2 separate regions of the Homo sapiens genome follow, and region 1 is linked to region 2. The links come from fine-mapping of genetic effects on gene expression. Tissue or cell type: prefrontal cortex. Region 2 holds a variant in brackets; the other region holds the start of a gene. All regions are shown on one strand. Distances are from middle to middle.

What was found. PIP is the estimated chance that this variant, and not a neighbour inherited with it, causes the effect.
Region 1: it holds the start of LINC01827, and the variant in region 2 is fine-mapped to the expression of LINC01827 in prefrontal cortex (BrainSeq, PIP 0.95).

What each region holds. Positions count from the first base shown.
Region 1 is chr2:195,573,318-195,576,088 of GRCh38, reverse strand. It overlaps LINC01827 (long intergenic non-protein coding RNA 1827), which reads left to right and starts at 1,596. Exons shown (of 2, transcript NR_187191.1): 1 at 1,596-1,765.
Region 2 is chr2:195,368,881-195,371,651 of GRCh38, reverse strand. All of the region lies in intron 1 of LOC105376755 (a long non-coding RNA gene), which reads left to right. It overlaps LOC105373817 (a long non-coding RNA gene), which reads right to left. Exons shown (of 3, transcript XR_923733.3): 3 at 77-499. Among named protein-coding and RNA genes, the nearest start is that of LINC01825, 160 kb to the left of the region's middle. The variant C/G (reference allele first, on the strand shown) is at 1,136.

The sequences.
Region 1 (2,771 bases), 200 kb before region 2:
ACCTACCTCTGAATCTGCAGCTCTACCTCCTTCTGCAGCTGCCCTTCATTATTCCGTCCACAGCTGAACTCAGAACTGTGAGTGTTCTCCAAGCCGCAGCCCCCCATCTAATGACAGGTGGTGGAGGTGGAGCACTTTAGAAACCAGTCTCAACAAATTAAAAAAAAAAAAGGACTTCAAAAAAGGGAACCAAGTTGATTCTTAAAACAATCTGTGCCACATTAAAAATAATAACAATAAATAAACTTGGAAGTTCAAAGAGTAAAACTAAAACAGGGACTAAAGGAAATCATCTTTGTTTTTTGCAGCCAATGACTGTGCAGACCTGATGCTGTCTTGTTCTTGTACCAAATTCTCCTTGAAAATACCAGAGACCTCTCTCTGAATGGCCATAACATTATACCCTAAGGGAAATAATTTTCTCCAACATTTCTCATCTTTTGTAAACAGATGGCATATATATATTTAATATATATATTTATAGATATATTTATAGATATTTATATATATTTATAGATATATTTATATATATATTTAAAGAGAAAGAGAAATACCAACAGTCTGCCAACTGTGGAATTCTTATAGTCCGATAGTTTCTTTTTGGTTATTTTTTCACAACTAAATTAACTAGTGTTGCTGCCATAGATACATTTAAGAAAATCAGACACTTTGCTGCTTTTACATATATCTGTCTGAAACTCAGCAGGAATATTTCAGTTGCCTTAGAAAAATATCCAGTTAACAAACTTTGTGAAGTGAAAAGAAAACCTTATCAAAATCTCCAGCTTCAAGTACATTTAGTTGTTTTCTTTTTATTGTTGCTTACATGCTGTGATTGGAGCACAATATGTGGAAATTGCATAACCATTATTTCCACAAATCAAAGCTATTGAGACATGGGAAGGCCATGTGGAGCTGCTGCATGAAATGTTGGTTAAAAAAATTCCACTCTGCCTTTATATCTAAAGTCTTCCCTTCTTTCAGGTATCAATGGTTTCTTCAGTCGTAAGCATCACTAGGTTGTGTTTCGTTTGTTTAACTGCTTTTAAAATCAGAATTAGCCATAGGTCAAATAACATTTTTTGAAAAACATTTTCTCTATGTGTCTTATATTTTTCCTTAGTTCTACTTTGTTTTGTTATTTTTAATATTTTGGGGGTAATCTAGGCAAAGAGCTCTTAATTCTTAATGCATTAGAACCATCAAGAAACATTCAGTGCAATTTCCATGTCTCAGGGGAAAGTTTTGGTGTCCTCACCTCGATCCATTCCCAGGTTTATGGGGACTAGGGAGAATCCTTTCACTATTATTTTACATTTTAAAATATACCTAATCAAGTGCAGTGCAGTGCAGTGGTGTATGCCTGTGGTCCCAGCTGCTCGGGAAGCTCAGGAGAGAGCATCACTGGAACCCAGGAGTTTCAGTCCAGCCTGGGCAACACAGCAAGATCCCATCTCTAAAAAAAGAAAAGAAAGAAAAGAAAACAGTGGCCAGTCAGATGGCTATGTAGGTCAAAGACAGCCTGACTGAATCATATGAGAGGGAAGAAAAACACTTGTCATTCCTAGCTTTCTGTGTTCCTCTTTTGTTCCAGCAGAGCTTTGGTTGTACTACTCTAATACCCATACAACACTGCTTTCCTTAGAGCCACAGCTACTGCTGAGAACTCAAAAACTTCTTCCTTTCCGGTGAACACGTCTAGACTTGGGCTGGGGATGGGATGAAGATCTCTAACACCTTCCTGGAAATCAAGAAGTGCAAATAGGTAATTTTCCCTTTTTTTTTTTGAGATGGAGTCTCACTCTGTCGCCCAGGCTGGAGTGCAGTGGTGCAATCCGGCTCACTGCAATTCTCCCTGCTTCAGCCTCCTGAGTAGCTGGGATTACAGGTGCCCGCCACCACACCCAGCTATTTTTTTTAGTTTTAGTAGAGACGGGGTTTCACCGCATTGGGCAGGCTGGTCTCGAACCCCTCACCTCAGGTAGATCCGCCTGCCTCGTCCTCCCAAAGTGCTGAGATTACAGGTGTGAGCCACCGTGCCCAGCCTGGTAATTTTCTTAAGAGAGAAATAATGCTTTGTTTTGAGATGTTCTGCTGGGGTATTCTGGTAGCTCTTTCAGTGCTTAAACTCATTCCGAGTCTGCACAAATGGCATAATATTTAGCTGTGCTTTGACACTCTTCAGCACCTGGAATATAATGAGCATAAATATCTTTTTAGGTTTCTAGATCAAAGATTGTTTTCTTCTATAATGTTTCTCCTCAAAGAAGTGTTTCACTGTTCTGTAAAGTAAATTTCAGAGATTATAAGGCCAAAATAGCGATTATAGCAAAAGTCTATGATCAGTTACATTGTCTAATTTTGAATTACAGTGGCAGCTTTTCTTTTATCTTTAAATTTGGTGCCATTTCTTCCTATCATTTCCACCCCTGGGATTTTTCTGGTTAGAGATGTATATAATTGCCTTTCTGCCCACATTCCCTTCTAAAAGAATCTGTTCCCCTGCTGAACAGATGGGCCTAGTCATCTATGTTTATATCATATGACCCTACTCCCTGGTTATGATGATTGGACCAGGGTGGGGAGACCTACTCTGAGAGTCGATCCATAGGTTAGGCCAAGCCAACTAGATGATATTGTTTGAAAAAATTTCACTGAGACACAAAAGTCATAGTTAAGTGATGAGAATTGGAGTTGTCGGGTCACAGGTATTTAGTGTGAGACCTCTATGGCAAGCTTCAGCTACATGAACATTAAATTATGAGGGAACC
Region 2 (2,771 bases):
GATTCAAGATGAGTTGAAAACAATAAAAGCATAACCCTTAAATCTTCTAATAAAAATAGTTTTAGTAAGGGTTGACTGGAACTGCTCAGATCAATAAGAAAGGCATTATATGATACTTAGTTTTGTTTTCTGTAATAATTTGACTTTTATAGTTGTCAGTATTGTTATTATATTTAGCCATATTAACAAAGTGTCTATTTTGATTTATTAACCATCACTGTGTAGGAAAAAGGCCCTGGTTTCTCTCTCTTAATAGCTTCCTTGAGAAGCTTATCATTTTATAAATAATTCAACCAGCATTGCTCCTTTGGAGGTAACATATACTATTTGCGGGTAAAATGTATGAGTAAATACATAATTCTTTGTGGACCAAATTTCAAAACCTGATTCCTTAAAATTGTTAAAATGGGCCAACGATAGTACCTGAGATTCAACAGCATTTCTTGACAGTTTCTTCATCAGTTTGATCTTCGCCTTTACAGATGTCCTCACAGGTATGCTGAGACAATCAAACAAGTAATTTGTTTTGATTACATTAAAAATCCCAAAGGCCTAAAGAAGGTCTTTACCCTGGAAAGAACTGAAATTCGCCACACCACACTCAGCCACTCATGCAGCCTTATGCATCCCCTAAGAGTTTGCAGTTCTCAGCCCCAGTTACGTAACAGATCAACTGGAGACCTTTAAAAAAATACCAATACTGGGACTGGCCTAGAAAAATTCTGAAAGAATTAGTCTGGGGTGAGATCTAAAAGTGAATATTCTTAAAAAGCTGCTCAGAGATTCTAGTCTGTAGCTAGAATGATAACCACTCCACTATAGCCATGGCATATTACTCAGTGTGTCCAGGGAAGCTGATATTAGTATATTCTGATTATAACAATATAAAACACAGAATCCACATTTATTAGATCAAGCAGAACTTCCTGGTTGTGTGTGTTGGCAGGAGGTTGTGTGTGTTCACAGAAGATTGTGTGTGTGTTCTTCTTTTATAATACTTAATGCTTAACCTTGGTACAACTCTGTTTCATTCTCTGGGTACAGCAAATGAACAACTTTATCACATTTATCAGGAATAAATTGATAATGTATTTTACAGATAATCACTAATTTTCATATCCCTATAAAGTACCAA[C/G]AGGAGAAAAACAACGCCATGGAATGAATGAGCCATGCCTTCAAACAGTGCTTCTGGAGCTATTGATATGATGGTTGCACACGCTACCTTGCTTTGGCAAGGTTATCTTAATCAGGGCTCCCTCTGATTCTTTATGTAACTTATTCTGTAACAGCTGTGGAGAACACTTTTATAATGTCTAATGTTTATGACCTAGCAGAACTTCTTTCAAGAAAGCTGCTGAGGGCATATGCCCACAAATCTAATGCAAAGGCTGAATGCTGTTCGTAACATGAAAGGAGACCATGTTACTATTCTGCATAAAAATTCTCTGGTAGTTCCTGCCTTCAAGTTACTTACGCTATAAAACCATTTATTGCCTGGCTCTTCTTACCTGGCCAACTTTAATGTCCCGCCATTCTCCCCACTCCCATCCTCTCCCTCCACACATGTAAGGCTGAAGTAGAGAAAATGAATGCTCACTTCCTAGGATGCTGTAAATATTAAACCAGAATTCCCAAAAAATACTTAGTACAGTGCTTAGAATGTAATAACACAAGATTAAACACACACAGAAATAAATGACAATAACAACAACAAAAATATTTCTGTGTCCTCATAGAGCAGTTGCCTGCTTCTTACTTTACCTTTCAGTAGCATCATTTGCATATATCTATCATAAGCTTTATCTAATTACATTAAAATCAGTGGTTTGCCAATCAGCTTAACAGCATAGGTCTCAATGCACAATAGGCATGTAATTAATTTTTCATGAAATCAAATGCCTCTGATTTAAAAATTTCAAGAAGTGTTAGATTTTTGCTCAGCCATCTATTCTCTCACATGCTTAGATCCTCAAATATTAATTTAATGAATGAGTGAATCAATGAATGGTTCCCTTTATAATCAGGAACTGGTAGAAACTATGAATGCAGTTCATACAGTGATGCCAACTGGCCCATAGATGATTCAAAACTTTGAGCCTTGGCTTTCTATTACCCTCTCATAGGATTAATTTCTAACTACATCCAAAACTACCTCAGAAAAATTTGAAGACTGAAGCATCCCTATAATGGTTCTTAGTGGTGTTGTCAGAGTTCAAATGAACCAGAGTGACTCCATCTTGAATAGGGGCTGGGTAAAATAAGGATGAGACCTGATGGGCTGCGTTCCCAGGAGGTTAGGCATTCTCAATCACAGGATGAGCTAGGAGGTCAACAGGACTGGTATCACAAGATACAGGTCATAAAGACCCTGCTGATAAAACAGGATGCAGTAAAGAAGCCAGCCAAAACCCACCAAAACCAAGATGGTGTGGAAAGTGACCTCTGGTCATCCTCGCTGCTTGTTATATGGTAATTATAATACATTAGCATGCTAAAAGACACTCCCACCAGTGCCATGACAGTTTACAAATGCCATAGCCACCTCGGGAAGTTACCCTATACGGTCTAAAAAGGGGAAGGAACCCTCAGTTCCAGGAAATACCTACCCCTTTCCTAGAAAACTTATAATCCACCCCATATTTAGCATATGATAAGAAAACTTATAATCCACCCAATATTTAGCAGATGATAAGAAATAACCATAAAAATAGCTAACCAGCAGCCCTGGGGGCTGCTCTGTCTATGGAGTAGCCACCCTTCTATTTACTTTC